Regions from separate parts of the Homo sapiens genome. Here all the other regions are linked to region 1. The links come from fine-mapping of genetic effects on plasma protein levels. A gene starts in region 1. Each other region holds a variant in brackets. All regions are shown on one strand. Distances are from middle to middle. Region 1 holds the start of SEMA3G (semaphorin 3G). Region 2 holds the start of WDR82 (WD repeat domain 82). Region 3 overlaps SEMA3G (semaphorin 3G).

The links. PIP is the chance, under the fine-mapping model, that this variant and not a neighbour inherited with it causes the effect. Sun 2018 read protein levels with aptamers (SomaScan).
Region 2: its variant is fine-mapped to the plasma level of the SEMA3G protein (Sun 2018, PIP 0.95).
Region 3: its variant is fine-mapped to the plasma level of the SEMA3G protein (Sun 2018, PIP 0.95).

Annotation. Positions count from the first base shown.
Region 1 is chr3:52,442,433-52,447,499 of GRCh38, reverse strand. It overlaps SEMA3G (semaphorin 3G), which reads left to right and starts at 2,397. Exons shown (of 16, transcript NM_020163.3): 1 at 2,397-2,587; 2 at 4,593-4,753; 3 at 4,879-4,941. The coding sequence starts at 2,473. RefSeq lists enhancers at 1,547-2,423, 2,424-3,300.
Region 2 is chr3:52,275,549-52,284,184 of GRCh38, reverse strand. WDR82 (WD repeat domain 82) reads left to right here and starts at 5,536. Exons shown (of 9, transcript NM_025222.4): 1 at 5,536-5,984. The coding sequence starts at 5,824. It overlaps LOC107986086 (a long non-coding RNA gene), which reads left to right. Exons shown (of 3, transcript XR_001740699.2): 3 at 1,254-1,867. RefSeq lists enhancers at 4,913-5,544, 6,014-6,113, 6,524-6,603, 6,624-6,673, 6,177-6,809 and silencers at 5,274-5,563, 5,744-5,823. The variant C/G (reference allele first, on the strand shown) is at 4,769.
Region 3 is chr3:52,428,327-52,436,962 of GRCh38, reverse strand. SEMA3G (semaphorin 3G) reads left to right here. Exons shown (of 16, transcript NM_020163.3): 16 at 890-3,928. The coding sequence ends at 1,360. Among named protein-coding and RNA genes, the nearest start is that of SEMA3G, 12 kb to the left of the region's middle. RefSeq lists a silencer at 6,830-6,990 and enhancers at 8,170-8,269, 5,848-8,636. The variant T/C (reference allele first, on the strand shown) is at 3,506.

The sequences.
Region 1 (5,067 bases):
ATGGCATTTTGTATCCTTCATGCATCACCTAGTTTTGCCTGTTTTGCTGCATCCTTTCCATTTCTGGGCTTTTGCTTGGATAGTGCTTCCTCCATGAAGCCTCCCTTGATTTCCTCCATCAAGAGCAATCACTGGAGCATCTTCCACTGCTCCTGCTTCTTTATATTGTGTTTGCCTGGTTACTGCTAGCGTCCTCAAGAGGCTGCTGTTTCTGCTGGGTGGCCCTGCTACCCCAACACAGGGCCTGACACAGCGAGTTTGGGGGCCTCCTGCAGTTCCTTCTTTGTCCACTAGATGACACACGATGCCCGTGTCTGGGCCCATTGATCCTCGAATTCGGAGCACCCTTGTGGTCTTTCCCACCTGCAGCTGGCAAGCAGGGGGGCCTTTAGAGACGATCCCTACCCTCTGCCCCCAGGCCTGGAAAACTGAAGCCCAGAGAAGGAGAGGACCTGACTGAGGCCACACACATTAACAGTAGAGTTCGGACTCCCAGCCTGCCACAGGCTCTTTCCGCAGTGTGGAGTAGGCTGCCCCCACACCCTTCCCCAGTCGACCCAGGCTTCCCTGCAGCCCCTGCTGGGTGTCTGGCTGAGCTGAGACCCCAGGATGGGCTGGCAGGCTGAGGAGTGTTGGGCCTCCTGCCCGCCGCTGGTGGTCACATGCTGGCTGAAGGGCTGCCTAGCTCAGTCTCCAGTTAGAAGTTGGCCCCAGCTTGGGCAGTGTGCTGGCCACACCTCCCCAGGGAAACAGAGACAGAAGCAGTCCACTCCAAGGTCCCAGGATATGGTCACCCTGACAGCAGCCCCTGCGCAAGCCCACTCATCAGGTTATGAAGGCTGCTTACACCCAGGGTGGCTGGTCCCTGGCCCTGGGAGGAAGAGGCAGACCCAGAGATGGAAGGGCCTTGGCCAAGGCTCTCCAGCAGGGCCAGAGGCAGGGCTGGGCTGAGCTCCATCACTGGCCTCTGTGGGCAGCCCCTTGCCCACCTCCAGGCCAGCCCCCTGCTGAAGAAGGCATGTGTGAGTGAAGGGAGCTGGGGACAGGGAGGCAGAGTTGTAGGTCTCTGAGACCTGTCATGCTGACCCAAGAAGCCAACCTGTTTCCATTTCAGGATTGAGGTAGGGGAGGAGGGTGGGGTCCCCATACTCCCAACAACGCCCAGAAGCAAAGGAGGGTCCCAGGAAGGGGCAGAGCTGAGCTGGACCCATTCTCAGCCTGCTCTGTGGCCTGGGCCAGGTCCTTCCCTCTCTGAGTGCCCCGCAAGTTCCCTGACCACCATCAGAGGGCCCAGGCCGGTCCATGTGGGAGGCCCAACCTGCAGGAGCTGTTAGAATCCTGGGAACTCAAACTCCAGCTCAAAATTAAAATCTCTTTAGTGCCCAGGGCCTCAGGTTCTGAGTGTAGGGTTCTGGGGTGGGGTGAGGTGGCGACTGTTCTGGGGCAGGGAGCATGGGGAGGTCCCGTCACTCACCCCAGATTCAGGCCCTCAGTCCCATTTCCCCTTTGGCCCTCTTCTGTGGCTTTCTGTGCCCCCCGCCACCCAGTCAGTATTCAGGGTGGGGGAAGTGACCTCTAAGAGATCATAGGTGTCTGTAGGGCCTATGGGGCATGGGGTCCCTGGGAAGAACCATCACTGACCTGGGGAAGCTCTGGACCCTGAGTCTCTGGAAGGACTGGAGGCCTGAGGGAGGCAGGGCAAGGGGAGGTTCCCTCGGCATGGAGTCCCCTGATGCCCCTGTCCCCTACCCCAAAGCAAGCCTGGTGAGCTGAGATGGGGCATGTAGATGTGGGGAGAGGCTGGGGTGCCTGGAAGCCAGATGGGGACAGGCCTGGGTGGAAGAGGCTGGGCAGTCATCTCTTGCTGGCTCTATGAAGTGTTGCCGGACCTCAAACACCTGTCTAGGACATGGCGCCCCTTGGGCTGGGAATGGCCCTCCACCCTTACCCAGGGGAGCTGGAGAGTCTGGCCAAAGCTTCAGGGGGCTGGAATATCCTGGAATTGGGGCAGGGCCAGTTTGGAAGGTCTCTGCTGTGGGCAGTGGAGGGGCAGAGAACAAGGCAGAGCCCAGCTAGGCCCCTACCCAGCCCATCAACTTTAACCTCTGATCCCTGACCTCCCTTCCAGGCTCTCTCCCCACTTGTCACTTTGCTGGAGCCTGGGGACCTGCATTTGTGGACATCTCTGTACACATGGCCTGTGCCCTAGCTGGGAAGGTCTTCCCAATGGGGAGCTGGCCAGTGTGGCACAAAAGCCTGCACTGGGCCAACAAGGTGGAAGGAGAAGCGGCAGGTGGACGGCAAGGCCCCAGCCTCCTTCTCTCCTCCGCCCCTCTTCCCGCCCAGGACTGGGTGGAGCCACTGCCTTATAAGTGGTGGCCTGGTGGCAGCAGAGCAAACTACAACCGGCGGCCAGCGGGACCAGAGGGCGGCTCTGCAGGCAGGCGGCAGCGGTGCCCTCAGTTCCCCAGCATGGCCCCCTCGGCCTGGGCCATTTGCTGGCTGCTAGGGGGCCTCCTGCTCCATGGGGGTAGCTCTGGCCCCAGCCCCGGCCCCAGTGTGCCCCGCCTGCGGCTCTCCTACCGAGGTACCAGCCCCTGCGTGCCCTGTTTGTGTGCATGTGCCCTGTTTGTGTGTGTGCGCTCTGTTTGGGTGCATGTGCCGTGTTTGTGTGCATGTGCCCTGTTTGGGTGCGTGTGCCGTGTTTGTGTGCATGTGCAGTGTTTGTGTGCGTGTGCCGAGTTTGTGTGCGTGTGCCGAGTTTGCGTGTGCCGTGTTTGTGTGCGTGTGCCGAGTTTGTGTGCGTGTGCCGAGTTTGCGTGTGCCGTGTTTGTGTGCGTGTGCCCTGTTTGTGTGCGTGTGCCCTGTTTGGGTGCATGTGCCGTGTTTGTGTGCGTGTGCCCTGTTTGGGTGCGTGTGCAGTGTTTGTGTGCGTGTGCCGAGTTTGTGTGCGTGTGCCCTGTTTGGGTGCGTGTGCCGAGTTTGTGTGCGTGTGCCATGTTTGTGTGCGTGTGCCCTGTTTGGGTGCGTGTGCCCTGTTTGTGTGCGTGTGCCCTGTTTGGGTGGCTTGGGCTCTTGGGTGCCTGGTCAGCTGTAGGGGAGGGAGCCTCTCCCTGCACAGCTCTCGGGGAGTGGGAGGGAGGCAGGTCCTGGGAGACAGGACCAGGGTGGCGGTGGGAGGCACCTGAGGGGGAGTGCTGAGAAAGGGACAGATGGAGACCCTGAGAGAGCTCAATAAAGATGGGGAGGAGACAGAGGAAGGGACCAGGCAGGGGAGAGTGACAGAGAGGGTGGGGCTGAAGGGTCTGTCTGGGCTCAACTGGCACTTTTTGCCCAGGGTGGCCAACGGGAGAGCAGGCAGCATGCTATCCCTTGGTCCTGGGGCCACAGAGAAGGGGAGGACCCCCCTTGCAGCCCACTTCCCAGAGTGGGCTTGTTCATGTGCTCCTGCACCCAAGAAGCGCCCCAGCCCAGGGGGAGTTTCACCTCCCCTTTTTGCACATCCCAGCCTGGGGGTTCCTGTGTTCTACCCTAGACATGTGAGCCGGCTCAGGCCTCCACGGATGGGCCCAGGGAAGGCCCGAGACAGGCTCTTGGCAGATCCTTCCTGAGGAAACCAGAGGGGTGACCACCTTCCCCTGGGAAGCCCAGTCTGCTGGGGGAGATGGCGCTCGTCCCTGGAGAGGCTGAGGGGAATGTGGTCTTGTTCCGGGAGCTGTGGTTTTGCGGGGAGGTCAGACTGCTAGAAAAAGCCCCAAATAGGGAAAGTTCCCCAAGGTACTGTCATCCATGGAGGGCTTCCCGGAAGAGACCGTTGATGAGTTTTGGGGGTGGAATGGGTGTTGGGTAGAGGTGCTTCCGTAGGGAAGGCATAGGACACTCTGGGCCTTCCCAAAGGTGGCCAGCACCCTCTTCCTGCCACATCCTACTGCCCCCATTACCTCCACCTCCCTAGCCAAGCCCGGAGGACCTACCTCAGGATCCTCAACTCCTGGGACCGATGTCCCCAGACAGCTCCCCGCTCTCATCTCTGGGGTGGGATAGCCAGCATCTGTGGGGAGAAAATTGTCTTTGGCCGCATCCCTGGACTGGAGGTGGGAGCCCTTCCCGGCCATACCTTCCCTTTTCTGCACCCAGGCCATTGCCAGGGGTCCCCTCTGCTGGGAACAGTTTCGCCTGCTGGCCCACCCTCCAGCTGAGCCAGGCGGCCTGCAAAGACTCCCGCCCTTCCTCCAGGATCTTCCAGCACTTTGCTCTAGTTTCTGCTGGTTGGGGCCTTCTTCCCTGGGGACTGGGTAGGGCACAGATGGGACAGTGGGAAGATGTTAGCTGCATGATGAAGGGCTAAGGAATGGAGGGGTGGGAGGTAGGCCCCAGGGTAGGCTGGGCCAGGTGGGAGGCTCTGAGCCTCCCGTCCCACCTGTCCCCAGGAGCCATGGTCCGAAAGCCTTCCAGCACCATGTGGATGGAAACATTTTCCAGATGTGAGTGTGTCAGGGGTGGATGCTCAGCCGGGGCCTCCACCTCCACTCCTTGGCTGGGGAACTAGGCTGAGCTGTGGCCCTGATCTGCCTCCCCATACATCCTCCTAGACCTCCTGTCTGCCAACCGCTCTGCCATCTTTCTGGGCCCCCAGGGCTCCCTGAACCTCCAGGCCATGTACCTAGATGAGTACCGAGACCGCCTCTTTCTGGGTGGCCTGGACGCCCTCTACTCTCTGCGGCTGGACCAGGCATGGCCAGATCCCCGGGAGGTGAGCTGGACTGGCAGGGAAGAGGGTCTGTTTGAGAACTGGGCACCTCCAGATGGGAGGCCAGATGGGGAAACTGAGCCTGTGAGATCAGGGGAGGACCTGAGGTCAGCGGGGCTGTGTTCCAGGTCCTGTGGCCACCGCAGCCAGGACAGAGGGAGGAGTGTGTTCGAAAGGGAAGAGATCCTTTGGTGAGTGCTGTCGGGAGGGATGGTCCCCCGACCTGACACCCTGCCCTGACCCCCAGGACAATCCGTGACCACGCCCCAGGTACCTCTACCAGGGGCATTTGGAGCAGATCTTGAGGGCTTTTGAAG
Region 2 (8,636 bases), 170 kb after region 1:
GAAGGTCAGCTGTGTTGGAGGCAGGGTAAAGTGGAGCTGTGTCCTATGTAAGGGCTGTACAACACCTTAAAACTGGGAGGCCGAGGTGAGCGGATCACTTGAGGTCAGGAGTTTGAGACCAGCCTGGCCAACATGGCAAAACCCCGTTTCTACTAAAAATACAACAACAACAACAACAACAACAACAACAACAAATTAGCCGGATGTGGTGTCACGCACCTATAATTCCAGCTACTCGGAAGGCTGAGGTGGGAGAATTGCTTGAACCCAGGAGGTAGAGGTTGCAGTGAGCTGAGATCACACCACTGCACTCCAGCCTGGGTGACAGAGTGAGACTCTGTCTCAAAAAAAAAAAAAAAAAAATTAAAAAAAATAAAACATCTTAAAGCTATTTTTCTTGGAAGGAGGAGTTGGGGAGAGTAAAACAAAACACTAGGAAGCAGTTCAGCATGACTCTAGGCAAGCACTGATGAGAGGCCACTAAAGCTGTGTATGTTGGATTGTTTGGGAGTTTTTAAGCCTTAGGAAACAGTGCTGTAGTTTTAGAGACAGTGGCCTTGGCCCTGAGACTCTAGGCAGTTCCTTCTGGCTCTGAGCAGTCAAGGCTTATCTGGGAAGATTCCATCCTTTCCTTCCAGACTAAGAAGGTATTATTTACCGACAGTGGTCTTTGTTAAATGTGAATGATTTCTTGTCCTTTGCCCTGGAAACAGAACACAAGCTTTCCAGTGCTGAAGCAGAGTGTGAATCCAGACTTCAGTGCTTATTGGTTAAGTGACCCTGAGAAAGTTAACCTCTCAGAACTTCAGAGTCTTCATCACAGTATGTTTCCAGTGCATGTAGAAAGGCTCAGTGTTGTTGCTGTACTAGTCCTGGGTTGAGCCAGCTTCATGGGTGTGTGACTTGTATAGTCAGAAGGACCCTGCACTTCATTTAATATTCTGTTGTTGTCATCTTGAGATTCTTAGCAATTTTTTAACAAGGGGCCCTACAAATTGGGTAGTTAGTCCTGCTGCCAGGGAAAGATACTTTCTTTTTATCCAGGCCCCCGGTCCTGGAGTCTCAAGACCTCTCTGAGGAATTCCAGTAGAAGTGGACATACATTAGTAACTAAATTTATTTATTATTTCTGGTCATATTCATGTATATCCCACAAGATTTTCCATGCACACACTTAAATTCTGTCTAAATAAAAATGGCTTACTTCATCCTTGTAATATTTATTTTTTTTCTTTCTTTTTTTTTTGAGACAGAGTTTCACTCTATCGCCCAGGCTGGAGTGCGATCTCGGCTCTGCAACCTCCGCCTCCCGGGTTCAAGCAATTCTCCTGCCTCAGCCTCCCGAGTAGCTGGGACTACAGGCGCACACCACCATGCTTGGCTAATTTTTGTATTTTTTGGTGGAGTCGCAGTTTCACCATGCTGCCCAAGCTGGTCTTGAACTCCTGACCTCAAGTGATTCACCCACCTTGGCCTCCCAGAGTGCTGGGATTACAGGCATGAGCCACTGTGCCTGGCCCTTATCTGAGGAATTTAGAAGGGAGCAAAGACCACCTGGTAACCATCCAACAGGCCATCCAGAGGCAAAACTCCTTATCTGGGGAAATTAGAAGTAATTAAACTTCCCTAGTATCTAAAGTGGGCATCTGGTTCCAGGCCTCTTTCAACTTTTATAAGTAACTAAAATTTCTAGGCATCTCTGGAATGTCATGCTGAAACTAATTTTACAACCCTAAGCTCCTGCCTGAAGGTCCATAAATGCACCTAAGGAAAATCCACCAAGGCCCTCAGTCCTCTCGCTGGGGTGCCCCGCTGCACTCTTCTGCAGCGTTCTTTCTTTCTAAGAAATTTTCCTTTTTCAAACCTATACTGTTGTCAGTAAATTTTTTGCCAACCTGTGAGGCGACCACTTCCTGGTGCTGGGGCTCAGACACCTCACCAGGCATTTTGTGTTCTAGTGTTCTGCGTTTCCTCTTTGGCAATTAAGCTCACACACACACACACTCAACTGTCCCAAAGAAGAGAGTCACCTGATTCTAGTTATTCCGAGGGCTGTGTAAGCACTGATACACACACACACTGTCACACTTACACACATGCAACTGTCCCAAAGAAGAGAGTCACCTGATTCTAGTTATTCCAAGGGTTGAGTAAGACGTTAGTCAATCTCTAGGGAAGCCCTGCTGCTGGGCACTGGAGCTCAGAAATTTATCTCAAAGAATTAGAATTCATAAGGAGCTCTGTGTTTTGGAAAGAGGACACATTGTTTAGGACAGTTTCCATTCCAATTGTGCAGCATGAAATAGAAAAATTTAATAAGTGGGCCAATCAAGTATCTGGAATCCTTTGGATAAATTCATTTATTCAATTAATCCATACTGAGCTCTGGCTGGGCTCTGGACAAAATGGGAAGCAAAATTACTTTACAGCCATATAATAGAATAGTTTGTAGCCATTCAAAATGATTGTATCGATATTTATTGACCTGGAATATGTTCATAGTATGGGTAAACTTACAAACAATATATTATGAACCCAATAAAAATATATTTCAGGGATTGGCTGGGTGTGGTGGCTCATGCCTGTAATCCCAGCACTTTGGGATGGTGAGGCAGGCAGATCACCTGAGGTCAGCAGTTCAAGACCAGCCAGGCCAACATGATAAAACCTCGTCTGTACTAAAAATACAAAATTAGCTGGGCGTGGTGGCGGGCATCTATAGGAGGCTGAGGCAGGAGAATCACTTGAACCCAGGACATGGAGGTTACAGTGAGCTGAGAGCACGCCACTGCACTCCAGTCTGGGTGACAGAGCAGGAAAAAAAAAAAAAAAAAAAAAAAAAAAATATATATATATATATATATGTATATGAAAAAATCGGAAAGGTTCTACATCAAAATGGTAAATTTCGTGTTATATATATTTCACTATAATAAAAGATTGTAACAGTGGCTATCTCTGGATGCTGTTTTTATTATTTGTATTTTTTAGTTTTTTTGCAATGAATATGTGACAAGTAAAAGAATGACTACAAATAAAAGGAAACATAAAAAATTAAGTCTGATGCTCTTTTAAAGCCCATCTGATTCACTCTTGACTGCAGCTTTCTCTCCATCCACCCATCCACTGGAGCCGGCTTTCTGTGTCACTTTTTAAAGTCCATTTTTTTTTTTTTTTTGAGACGGAGTCTTGCTCTAATGCCCAGTGCAGTGGTGTGATCTCGGCTCACTACAACCTCTGCCTCCCGGATTCAAGCGATTCTCCTGCCTCAGCCTCCCAAGTAGCTGGGATTACAGGTGCCCGCCACTGTGCCCAGCTAATTTTTGTATTTTTAATAGAGACAGGGTTTCACCATTTTGGCCAGGCTGGTTTTGAACTCCCGACCTTGTGATCTACCCACCTCGGCCTCCCAAAGTGCCACCGCACCTGGCCTAAAGTCCATCCTTTAAGGCAACCATACTGTTGGGCTGGAAGCCAGGAGAGCCCCACTATAATAGGGCAGGGAGCCAGGCTAGGAATTGGAAACAGTAAGAATGCGAAACAGGATGAGGATTTGAAGACCCTCTTAAAAATGGGGGAAAAAAAAAAAGACTGCATTCCAAAAATAATGCAGAAAGTCAAGTCTTGGGAGGAAGGTTTGGTCTTAACGGTGAAATCTGGAAAAGGTATAGGAAGTACAATACTTGAAAAATACCCTGCAAAGATTTATTTTGGCTGGCAACATTCAGTAGATTACAGCTGTTTCTGTGGTTATTTTTGTAGATTAACATGGACCAAAATATGGCATCATCTTACTGGGTGTGTTCACTTCCCGACAGTTCTAGAACATGGTACTCGATCTGTCCTTGTTGCCTTCTAAACTATTCGAAGCAGACGCTGTATCAGACTTTCTAGCTTCTGAAATAAAGGCACAGGAATTACAGGGAAGCAGAGCAAGTGATCTGGGACGTGGAGGGTTTTTCTTCCATTGTGTGCAGTTTGGAAAGTTGCCATCTATTCAGGTTTCACTCAAACCGGCTTTTTCCAGACCCCAGAACAAATTGTAGCCAGAAGCTCTGCTCTTTGTCAGGAGGCAATTATACCCCAGACTTAGCCAGGAACTTGCCTCTTCCCTTAGAGAACAACTTCTCTTTATGTATAAGGATCCTGGCTCTCCTTTTACCCAGGGGGTTGGGATACAGCCTCTAGTTCTTTCTAGAAAGACCCCAACTGTCCCAGGGTTTCCATTTTGTTTTTTACCATTGCACAGGTCTCTGGATAATAACCTTCCTAATAGCGACTGAAATGTCTCACAGCCTTTCCTCGTTTTTGTTTCTCTTTAGCTAAAGAAAGCAAAAATAAATAATCCCCATCTTCATTGTTGGAAACCCCAGGCAATTAACCTTTTGAGGAGCTTCACACAAGATACAGATCTGTGAAGCCACATAGGTTGGCATTGAGTTTAACCCCTTGCCCAGAAAGTTAAGGTTAGGAAGCTTGGTTCCTATTTTCTGTTCAAATACTGCTTTCCTTTGTTAGAGATAAACTTTCTTTTAAGGCAAATAATCACTTATATGATAGAACCTTTAAAATAATCCTGTTGACTACAAACAGGATAGTGCAACTCTTCCAAATCTTGAATGTGGTGGTGACTGCATGACTGTGTATGGGTGTCAGAACATAAAACTAGCCACTAAAAAGGCTAATTTTTGGGGGGAAACCGTCTGCTCTGTCGCCCAGCCTGGAATGCAGTGGCACGATTTCGGCGCACTGCAGCCTCCGCCTTTCT[C/G]AATTCTCGTGCCTCAGCCGCGCCATCATGCCCGGCTAATTTTTTGTATTTTAGTAGAGGTGGGGTTTTGTCATGTTGGCCAGGCTGGTCTCAACTCCTGAGCTCAAGCGATCATCCCGCCTCGGCCTCCCAAAGTGGTGGGTTTAAAGGCGTGAGCCACCGCGCCCGGCCTAAAAAGGCTGATTTTTACTGTACCTAAAGTCTACCTCGATTAAGAAAACGAGGCCGGGTGCGGGTGAGGTCAGGAGTTCGAGACCAGCCTGGCCAACATGGTGAACCCCCGTCTCTACCAAAAATACAAAATTAGCTGGGCGTGGTGGCGCGCGCCTGAGCGAGAGACTCCATCTCCAAAAAAAAAAAAAAAAGTAAAGAGGTCGAAGCTGTCTAAGCGGACGCTGCGGTGGACTAGCGGTCAAGCTTGCCTGCGAGCGGCTCACCTGAGTCACCCCCAAAACCGGCCTCCAGCAGCATACCCGACCCTGCAGTACCCCCTCCCACGCAGCCTGCGATCGGGACGCCTGCAGGAGGCGCCAGAGTCTTCGCGGGGGTTGCAATCCCGCGCAAGGGCCCCCGGCTCCCAAGGCATCCGCAACCTTCCGATCCCCCGGGAAGGCCCTGCACGTCTCGGCCGCTCCCTGCCAGCAGCCCGCCCCGCCACTACACTCCGCCGCGGCCGCGCTGACGTCACCACCCCGCCTCCCCGCCTTGCTCCGCCGTTCCCGCCCCGCCCCCTTTCCCGGCGTGCGCCGCGGCTGAGGCTCCTCGCCCTCAGCTTCTGCCTGTCGCCCCAAAATGGCGGACACAATGAGCCGGCGACGCGCCGGTTGTCCGTGAGGTGGCTGTGAGGACGAACGGTCGGCGAGGCTCCACAGTCCAGGCAGAAGACCCTCGACCAAGCAGGAAGAAGAGGAGGAGGCGGCCCAACTGTTGGCCGACTTCCCGCTAGCCGCCGGCGCGGCGCCCGCCCCGCCTGGGTTGGCCCCTCGGCAGCCCGCCCGCTCGCCGCCGGGCCCCGCCCCGGCCCTGCGCCGCCGCTGCCTTCCCCAGCCGCCGCCATGAAGCTGACCGACAGCGTGTTGCGGAGCTTCCGCGTCGCTAAGGTGTTCCGCGAAAACTCGGACAAGATTAACTGCTTCGATTTCAGCCCCAACGGCGAGACGGTCATCTCGAGTAGCGACGACGACTCCATCGTGCTCTATGACTGCCAGGAGGGCAAGTGAGTGCGGCGGAGGCCCTGGGCCCGAGTCTCAGTGCCTCCCTCCGGTGGCCCAGCACAGGTCCCTCGGCCTGCCCTCCGTCCCGACTTCAGCCCCCAGCCTATTTTGCACGCGTTCCTGCCAGGGCCGCCTCCACCCCGCAGCCGTCCAGGAGACCTTTTATTTTTTTCTTCTTAAAAAAAAAAGATAACGATAGTCATAATTTTATAATATTATTTGTATGTCTTCGGTCTCCTTTGAGCGCTATGCATCACTTGCCAAACCCCACCTTGACCTTGACCTTTAAACGCCCGGTCCGCCCACCCTGGGCCCACCAGGTAGCGTTTTCAGCTCCTCAGGCTGTCAAAGGTGCTGGTCTGCTCCGGCCTCGACGCAGGACTGCAGGGGCTGCTTTTCTGCCTCCTTCGGCAGCGTCAGCTCTCTCTTGTGCTCTCTCCACTGTGACCTCGATTCCGCCCTGGCACTCCGCCCATCCCCTGCCCCTCAGCTTCCCGCGGCCTTTCTGCCGTCAGACCGCGTGGGTTGCACTTCTTAGCTGTCAGGATTTATTTGTTGTGCCCCTTTGAGCCCCCTTGCTTTTTCTTCCTGCTCCTAGCCTTTCTCTTACTCATTCAGACTTGGTGCCCACGTTCATAAGTGAACTTTTCAGCAACATCTAAAACTTCCTTTTTGCCACACACAAACGAACTTGGTCGTCCCATCCTGACCTGAATGTGAGCTTCCGTTAAAACAAAGCAAGCATCGTAGAACAATTTCAGGTTTCCTTTCATACTTTTTTTTTTCTATTACACTTTTTGGTCCACTTTGAATTCCAATTCTGATCATGAAACTTTTATGTTGCCACAAGTCATCTGGAGACCCACCATACCTGCATCTTTTCGCAAAATCTAAGCACAGCACTTTGCCTTTTTCCCTGGGGGTCCTTGTCAGCCCTCCTCACCGCACGCCTGTGGACTTGCAGCTCCTTGGAGCCAAAAACTAGTTTAGATTAAATTCGTTTTACCCTTAGCCACCTTCCCCAAGAAGGCTTGCTGATGTTTGGTTTAATTCGGTGGACCCTGGTTTTTTCAGACTTGATTTTGTCACCTAGTAACAGATATTATTATTATTATTATTATTATTATTATTATTATTTGAGATCTTGGGTTTTTCTCCACCTTCTCCAGCTGTTCCTTTTTCCTTTTTTTTTTTTTAGACTGGTGTCCTTCTTTTGGAACATATCTCTTCATTTGTGAATTTGATTATCTGAAGTAATGCTAGTTTGGACTGAGCTATAATGGTATCCCCCCAGTTTTTTTCCCCACTGGGGCTGTGAGAAAGTATTATGTAACCGGCTCTGGATCTGCCTGCAGTTTGTGGCAGAGTGGTCTGCAGTGGTGGTCTTAAGGAAGAGGGAATTGTTAGCTGGACAAATAGTTATTTGAGTCAGTGTTACTCATTGAGTAGATGGATTTCTGTCCTGGTCTGGTCACTTGAATCAGTTTAGAAGACGAAGTAACATTTAAAGGTGTGGTAGTAGGGTCAGCATTGTGGGGTCCTGGAGGAGTAATTTGAAGCTGGCTTGCATGAAATGTATAGTGCTTATGCACAGATTAGAACCTCTTCCCAGAACCTGAGGGTGGAGATGTATATCCTCATTTAAAGGAAATGAAGGTTGTTATAGCATTTCTTTGCAGTTTGTCCCCAAATTTGGCGTAATTTTGATTTGGGAAGGATGACCTTGACATGAAGTCCTGTCTTTCTTTTTTTTGTTTTTTTTTTTCGGGTGGGGGACGGAGTCTCTCTCCGTCGCCCAGGCTGGAGTGTAGTGGCGCGATCTTGGCTCACTGCAACCTCTGCCTCCCGGGTTCAAGCGATTCTCCTGCCTCACCCTCACAAATAGCTGGGATTACAGGCGCCTGCCACCATACCCTAACTTTTGTATTTTTAGTAGAGATGGGGTTTCACCATGTTGACCAGACTGGTCTTGAACTCCTGACCTCAAGTGATCCACCCGCCTTGGCCTTCCAAAGTGCTAGGATTATAGGCATGAGCTGCTGTGCCTGGCCAAATCCTGTCTTGTTAAAAGTAAAATGCTAGTTTTGTGACATAAGGCAGTTTATTTACTCGTAGCATTTTTACATAATTAGAAACTAACAAAGTTACAGTGTTTCAAAGAACTCCCATATGATTCAATAACTGGTTACATTTTCTGCATTTGCTTCATGACTGTAGGTAAATATTTATATGTACTGTGTGCCTCCCCCCACCTTTAGAGTTGGAGGTATCAAGCCCCTTTATCCCTAAACACTTCAACATGGATTTTCTTTCTTTTTTGAGATGGAGTCTCGCTCAGTCGCCCAGGCTGGAGTGCAGTGGCGTGATCTTGGCTCACTGCAACCTCCGGCTCCTGGGTTCAAGCGATTCTCCTGCCTCAGCCTCCTGAGTAGCTGGGATTACAGGTGCATGCCACCATGCCTGGCTAATTTTTGTATCTTTAGTAGAGGCAGGGTTTCACCATGTTGGTCAGGCTGGTCTTGAACTCCTGATCTCGTGATCTACCCGCCTCAGCCTCCCAAAGTGCTGGGATTCCAGGCATGAGCCACTGCGCCCGGCTCAACGTGGATTTTCTAAGCACAAAGACATTCTTATGTAACCAGAGCACAGTTATC
Region 3 (8,636 bases), 12 kb after region 1:
TCTGGGGCCTGAGGATGGGCATTGGCCGGGGCAGGGAAGGGGAGGGGCAGGAGTGGATTGATTACAGGAGGGGCTCTCCCTCCAGCCTGGGAACTGGGGGAGGCCAGCCTTGGGCCAGCTGTTGGGCTGGGCACTGAGAAGATTCCCCAGGGGAGGAGGGGAGCAACAAGATGGTGTTTCACAACACTAGCTAATGGCTCAAGCAATCCACCCCCAACACACAGATGTGCAGACTAAAACCCACACAGGGTCCAGGCCAGAGGCGGGCTGGGATCAGGGCGGCACTCCCACTTCCCACGCTGTGATGGGCGATCAGCCCACCCTGGGCTGGGGCTGTCAGCTCGCACCGTTGGGGGAATGAACGGTTCAGACCAGGATGGGAAGGCCCTGTGTGTGTCTCTGTGTGTGTGTGCGTGCACGTGCATGTGTGCGTGGGCACACGCACATTGTATGTGTGTAGCATAGGGAGTTTCTGAAGCCCAGTTCTGGGCCAGGGGGCACAGCCCCTCCCTTGAGAAAAGCCTGTAGATGGGATGGTACCTCCAGAAGGGCTAAGGGGATAACATCTTAGCCCCTATGTTCCTTGGGAATGTGTGCCAGGGCCCTCTGAGGCCAAGATTGGAGTCCTCTGACTAAGGGAGAAACCAGCCAGTCAAATCCTTGAGAAGGCCCCTTCCTGGGCTATGGGAAGGTGAGGCCCCACCTGAATTAGCTGGTGGTCTAGAGGAGGCCCAGACTGCCACGCTGCTGGTCCCCTCCTGGGAAGGGGAGAATAGGGCAAGAAGTGCCCAGGCACTGGGCCCCAAGGATGGCAGAAAAGCTGGGGCAGAGAAGCCGATGGTAAACTCCCACCTTGCACCCTACTCACGCCCTCCCGCCCGCATGGCAGGTGAAGACGGACGAGCGAGTCTTGCACACGGAGCGGGGGCTGCTGTTCCGCAGGCTTAGCCGTTTCGATGCGGGCACCTACACCTGCACCACTCTGGAGCATGGCTTCTCCCAGACTGTGGTCCGCCTGGCTCTGGTGGTGATTGTGGCCTCACAGCTGGACAACCTGTTCCCTCCGGAGCCAAAGCCAGAGGAGCCCCCAGCCCGGGGAGGCCTGGCTTCCACCCCACCCAAGGCCTGGTACAAGGACATCCTGCAGCTCATTGGCTTCGCCAACCTGCCCCGGGTGGATGAGTACTGTGAGCGCGTGTGGTGCAGGGGCACCACGGAATGCTCAGGCTGCTTCCGGAGCCGGAGCCGGGGCAAGCAGGCCAGGGGCAAGAGCTGGGCAGGGCTGGAGCTAGGCAAGAAGATGAAGAGCCGGGTGCATGCCGAGCACAATCGGACGCCCCGGGAGGTGGAGGCCACGTAGAAGGGGGCAGAGGAGGGGTGGTCAGGATGGGCTGGGGGGCCCACTAGCAGCCCCCAGCATCTCCCACCCACCCAGCTAGGGCAGAGGGGTCAGGATGTCTGTTTGCCTCTTAGAGACAGGTGTCTCTGCCCCCACACCGCTACTGGGGTCTAATGGAGGGGCTGGGTTCTTGAAGCCTGTTCCCTGCCCTTCTCTGTGCTCTTAGACCCAGCTGGAGCCAGCACCCTCTGGCTGCTGGCAGCCCCAAGGGATCTGCCATTTGTTCTCAGAGATGGCCTGGCTTCCGCAACACATTTCCGGGTGTGCCCAGAGGCAAGAGGGTTGGGTGGTTCTTTCCCAGCCTACAGAACAATGGCCATTCTGAGTGACCCTCAGAGTGGGTGTGTGGGTGCGTCTAGGGGGTATCCCGGTAGGGGGCCTGCAGGGAGCCAGAGGGTGGAAATGGCCTCTAAGCTAGCACCCCGTAAGAAGAGCCTACCTGACCGACTTGGGGAGGGAACACAGAGGTGTTGGGAAGGTGGAGCAACAATGCACCTCCCCTCCTGTCGCGCCGTGATATCTTGGTGGCTCCCTGCCACTGCCCACCGCCTCTTCTCCATCTGAGAATCACGGAGAGGTGTAGATAATCTAGAGGCATAGACTGCTAGAGCCCCCAGGGATCTGGGGTGGTCAGGGCTCAGGCTTCACTTTGTAAACCAGGTGGGGGCATCTCACAGCCTGACTTCCCTTCCCCAGGCCAGGGTTGCTGGGATGCCTGCCCCTCCTGAGAGGACCCCCTCCCCATTGTCAGGCTCTCCATGTCCACGAGCGGGGAGGGGTGGGTTCTGGGGCATTGTTGTCCCTTGTGTCTGTGGACTAGAGATAGGGTGGGGGAGCTGGGGAAGGGTGCAGGCGGGAAGAGTGGGCTGTCTTTCCCAGGGTGATGCAAGCATGCCGCAGCCCTGGAGGCTGGGAATGTGGAGGCTCTGTGAGCCCTGCAGCCCTCAGAATCAGGGCCAGGGATGCAGAAGATTGAGAGGATATGGAGATGGATAGAGGGCAGGAGACCCTTAGGATAGATTGTGGGACCCAGGCAGGAACAGGTGTCCACAAGAACTCAGGATGGCATCAGTTAGCTCAGAAGCCACCTGGAAGACCCAGTGTTTCCATCTCTGGAATCTCTGTTTTATGCTAAATGGATTTAGGAAGACTGTTTTTCTTTTAAGGGGGAAACAAGGTAGAGAAAAGGACGAAGAAGTGTAAGTCCCGCTGATTCTCGGGGGTAAGGCTCGGATGGCAAGGACGCGTTCTGCCTGGGCATGTAGGGGAGGTGTTTTTGCCATCACCAGTTTCTCAGGCTGGGGAGCACAGAGGGGAGGAGGAGGACTAAATGAAAAGTTGTTCCCAGCCTGCACATGAACACATTCATGACACACAAAACTGGCTGGAAGGAGATAAGAGCACTGGGTTTGAGATTCCCTCCATTAAAACAACCAAGACAAAGAAAGGAGGGGAAAAAAAGATAAAAAGCAAGCCAGGGTTCCCTGCCCTATTGAAACTCAAACCCAGACTGCCTTGGGTTTTATCTTTCCCTTACCCCTGGCACCTCCAGAGAACTGGGACCTGAAATAGTCCCTCCGTTCTCCCCTTTGACCATGTAATAAATGAACCAGAAGCACTGAGATTAACCTATCAACGCCCTGAGAAGCCTTCCAGCCTGCGGTGCTGTCTGCTGGGAGGTCAGCTGGTCAAGGCAGAGGAGGAGAGGAGGAAAGGATGGGGGCTGAAGAGCAGAAGGGAGGGGAGACAGAGGGGATTAAAGAGGGGAGGAGAGAGTGCAGAGCTCCAGGAAAGGGTATCAGAGCTGCAGCCAGCTCTGCCCTCTACCCTAGGGAGGCCAGAAAGACACAAACAGCCCTCCGGGCCTTTACGCTGGACTCTGGCTTGGCAGGCTCCAGGCAGGGTCCTCTGGGAAGTTACTCTAGAAAACGAAGGGAGGAGGAGCACAAGATCCTCAGCAACGAACACCTGCACTTAGAAAAAGTGGACAGCTTCTGCCAACCACACCCTACCCATGGTACTGTATGCTATTAACTCCTGGAAACGCCCCGTAAATGCGAGTTGTTTTTGTATTTGTGTGTTGAGATGGGCCTTGTGGTTTCTCTG[T/C]ACTCAGAGCACATTTCTTGTAATTACTATTGTTATTTTTATTGTCATGACTGCCCCTGAGCTCTGGTGAGAAAAGCTGAATTTACAAGGAAAGGGATGAAGTTAATATTTGCATCACATAATTATATCATTACTGTGTATCTGTGTATTGTACTAAATGGACTGATGCTGCGCACATGAGCTGAAAATGAAGAGCCCTCCCATCCATTCCATGAGAAAGAAGGTCACCCTGAGTGACTTCTGTTTCATGATTTCCCAAACAGGTTTTAGAGCTGGAAAAGGACTTAAAGAAAGAGACTGGGTGGTGCTTTCTAGAAAGGAGGAAGATGGGTATCAGGGGAAGGAAGGAGTTAGAGGGCTTTGTACAAAGCCGAGATTGCTCATTAAATGAGGAACATCCTGGCCTGTGGGCTTGTAAGACTGACCTTCTTGGGACTTCAGGAGGATCTTGAACTAAAAGAAAAAAAAAAAACACTGGCAAAGGGCAGCTGGGCCCGTAGGCAGCTCTGCTCCTTTTTCACAACAACACTTGACATTTGTCACAGTGACACTTGGCATGGTTCCTGCCTTCATCCCAAGCCACATACCAATGGATATTAAGTCCTCATGGCTGGGGGACTGGGGCTGTGCTGTGGGGACTGTGGCTTCTGGAAAGGAGGGGAGGCCCCGAACATCTGACCTATTGGGCACACTGCAGGAGGTCCGTCTGGGCATGGCTCCCACTCCCCACTGACATCAACACCTCAGCCCAAAGAGCAGAATCCACTGATGCTAGAGGAAGATGGAAGGGTCATAACCCCACCTTCCCAGGGAGACTTCCCTGGGCCTCTTGCCTGAACAGGCCCCTCGATCCATGCTGTAGACTAGGGGTCTTAACAGGTCAGTCATAAGTCTCATCTTGCAGTCTGGGCCCTGGAGCTGGCCTTTCCTTTTGTTCCTTGCCCCCTCCACGATCACTTAGGCCTGACAGAACCTGAAACCCTGTCACCCCACCCCAGGAAGCATCATCACCTCTGACTGAGAAGTGTCACCAGGGCACCCACCTGGCACAGTGTGCTGGGCTGGGAAGGGTGTGCGAAGGCGGCCTCCAGAGCCCCCTTCTTCCCTCTTGCATCACTCTCCCAAGGGTGGTCCGGAAGACCCCTCTGGACCAGACCCCTTCCTGGTCCACACCACCTCCCCCTCCCATCTCAAGCCCTATTTCCTGCCTCAGCGATTTCAGCCTCTCTCTGTTGTCTTGTCACAGCTCTTTCCTCTGCGTCTAATGCTTCCTCTGCTCTTTGGGACTCTGTTCCATGACTTCCCAAACAGGTTTAGAGCTGGAAAGGGGCCTAGAGAATGAGACTGGCCCAGTGGTTCCAAGAGATAACTATAATCCCACGGGACCCTCCATGATCTCGTGGTCCCCGTGTTCTGCCCCTTTGGCCCTGACAGAGCTGAAATGCTGCCTGCTGGCTTGCCCTGTGAAGGCCCTGAGAAGTCCTGTGATGATCTCTTGCTAATGTGCATGCCTACTATGTGCTATGTGCTTTTCCAAAACATTTGGTTCTCTCTTTTTTTTTTTCCCATGGAGCAGCTAACATCTCATGTTTCTAACATTTTGAAGAACACACTTTGGAAAAATGTTGATTAGGTTAATTCCCTCCCTTAACATGTGAGCTTGATTAATTAGTAATTGCCTTCCCAGCTTGTAGGCTCTGGAAGCCCCAGCCTCCTGATGAATAGCCATATCTTGGTTTCCTATGACCCTCGCCAGAGTAGACTCTGCTACCCCGGGACAGGGCTGCCAAGCGGCCAATCTGCTGCCCTTTGGGCCTGGACTGTGCTCTGTTCCCGGCTCTCGTGCTCCCATAACCAGCCTATTTCTGGCCCCTCCTGTGTCTGTCATGGTCCTCTGTGGAGGGCTAGCATTCACCCCTAGTCTGTGGCTGTCCTTCCATCCAACAGACTCGTTTCTAAGAAGGTGAGGGGCAGGAAGGAGTCAGAATAAGAGAGGAAAACAGCAGTTTCCACTTTCTCAAATGACTCCTGGGCTTTTCTTTCATTGGCTAAGCTTGGGGTCAGGTCCTAGACAGCCCTAGAATCCCCTGCTTGGAGGAATGGTCAGGTAGCAGCCCCCAAGAACCTGGTGTACCTCCAGCCAGCCTGTCCTCTTTGTGGGCTGGCAGGGGGTCCAGCTGCAGCTCCAGCCAGTTGGGCCCCAGAAGACTGGCTCACATGCCTCTGGAAATCCAGCAAACAGAGGCACCTCTGGCCAACCACATCTTAGAGCTAGGGGGTAGTTGCTCAGAAATAGCCCAATTTCCATCCCAGTTAAGGTCCCATCCCAGCCTCACCTAAGTCTTGGATTGCAGTGGGTTCTACAAGAATAAAGTTCAACACACACCAGGAACAAATTCCCAGGGTCTTCTAAGACTCTAAACTCGGAAAGAGGGACAGTGGGTAGGGCTAGGTTTGGACACAATATCTGATAAGGTTGCCAGGCACGATGGCTCACACCTGCAATGCCATCACTTTCAGAGGCCGAGGCAGGTGGATCACCTGAGGTCAGGAGTTCGAGACCAGCCTGGCCAACATGGTGAAACCCCTTCTCTACTAAAAATACAAAAATTAGCTGGTGGCACACACCTGTAATCCCAGCTACTCAGGAGACTGAGGCACGAGAATCATTTGAACCCGGGAGGTAGAGGTTACAGCGAGCTGAGATCACGCCACTGTACTCCAACCTGGGCAACAGAGCAAGACTCTGTCTCAATAAATAAATAAATAGATAAAAATCTGATAAGGTGCCTGGGAATTGTTGGGCCGCACCCTGGCTCTCCTTCCGTACTCAGCCATCCCTCGGATGTACAGGAGACGAGGCAAGGCAGCTGTGGCCCTGTGCCCGTTCCCACTGCCCAGTCCCTGGCCACCTTTGCTGGGGGTACCACTACTGGGCCCCTCTCCCTTAGAGACTGCATCCTAATGAAGCCTTTCACTTTCCTTGCTGGACTTCCATTAAGGAAACTCCTGGTTCCTCATGAAGCCTTTAAAAAAATTACTCTCCACTGAGGATGAGGGCTGCTGCAAAGTCTCCAGGGAGGCGGTGTAAGGGATATGGGGCTGTCTTTGGGCCAGGCCTCCAGCAGCTAGCTAATAGCCTGCACGCAGGGACACTGCTGATGGGAGGACTCAGCTGACCAGTCTTGACCTCTTTACCCCGGAGAGTATGATGACCAGAGTACCCCCTAATCCACCCAAAAGGGCCTGTTTCACTGCTGTGAGGAATGACCAGGGCAAAGGGACAGTTGCAGACTGATAGGATTCCAAAGTGACTCAACAGAGGCCTGGAACAGAGTCCAGGTGTCTACCACCAAATAGAGGGGACTGGACTCTGGACACATGAAGCCCAGATTGATGGAGGGCGAGCGGGCTCTGCTCTCACAGATGAAGGCATGGGGAATGACGTGGCACACCAGCCACTTGCTCTGTGGACATGATCTCATCTGTTCACCCCCCCACTCCTGCCCCCAACTGATAAGAATCTGGTGATGTTTCCTGTAGTCCAAGGGTCTCAGACAATGGTGTGAACGGCTGGCCCTACTGGAAAGGACATTGTTCAGGGAAGAAAAAACAACACACCAGCACAAAGCCAGGGCAGGACCTGCTGAAATGTAAGGGCCTGTTTACAAACCCATGATTTCTAAGGGGAAGAACACAATGGAGAATTGTTTTGGCGAGGCTGGTGTCTCCTCCAGTAGGCTCCTGGGGGCTGGGGATGGCTTTGATGGTCCAGACAGGTCTCAGATGCTCTGAAAAGGATGGATACTAATGGCGCGGATGCCTTCCTGTTTATTAGGGGTGTGTGCAGGGCAGGGTCAAGAAGCCAGTTTACACCAAAGACAAGGGGAAGGGGCTCCTGGGGCTTACCCCTTCCATCTGGACCTCATGCTGTCATGTTGCTCAGGGATCCCAGGGTTAGAGCAGGTTTGCTAGGGAGAAGTGAGGGCAAGGGTTTTTTGTTTTGGGAAAAAAATCAGTTCTTCAGTTTTTCTGTCATTTTTTGGAAAAATGTACAAGCCATGACACCTTTGCAAATAGCCAGCTCCTTTGGAATGGAGCTCCCTGGCTTAGTCACTAGGGAGACTTCTCACACCTGGGGGCCCCCATGATGCTGTGACTGGGAGCACATGGGAAACTGATGCTGTCTCCCTGGGGTCAGGGCCAGTGGAGGTGCTGCTTCTCATAGCATCCTCCCACCCTGCCCATAGAGGCTAGAGCCTTTGAGCCACCGTTTGAGCCACCACCCAGAGGTCCTGATGGCAGTGAGTGTGCATTCGTGTGGACAGGTACCTGTGCATGTGTGCATGTGGGAGGAGGGTGGGGCAGAAAAGGAATAGAACCATATCACACATTCCCCCTTGGGACTGGCAGTCGCCATTTTTGGTGGAGGAGAGGGCATCTGGATGCCTCTCAATGAGTAATTGGGAGATATTTTTGGTGGGTTAGGAGAGCCACTTTGGGTCTGGAGAGACTATGAAGGCAGTCTTGTCTAAGGATTTGACCTGTGACGGGGAGCTTTCAAACTCATCTCTAACCCCAACAGGAACGTGCCTCATGAATAAACTCGAACAGATGTGTTTAGAACAATTGAGGCGCAATAAGTCTTATGTAATCCCAAAACAGAAGCAAGATTTTCATAAGCCTTTCCCAGCCTTCCAGGTCTGAGGGTTTATAATCTTCATCGACATGCTAACAGTGCCCTCTGGTGTTTGGCAGCAAAACACAGGCTTATGAATACAGGGTATGGAGCATCCATCAGTTCTGTAGACATTAAACTGCCTCTGAACGTGGAGTCCTGGGCCAGGCATCATGAGGGGAAGAAAGGTTAATAAGACAGACAGGTCCCTGGAGCTTCTGATCTAGCAGGAAAGACAGACCCATAACTGTAGGACAGACAGAGAATGACATGGGCTATAACAGGGGGTACAAACAGAGACAGTAAGAGTGCCTAGAGATGAAGAAGTAGCCCTTAGGCTGTGTTTAACAGGCTGAAGATGGATGCCAGGACTCTCCAGGCTGAGCACCCCAGGCCCGGGCCCAGTGTTCTGAGGCAGCCAGAGAAGAAGGCCTGTGGGTGGGATGTCCTGGG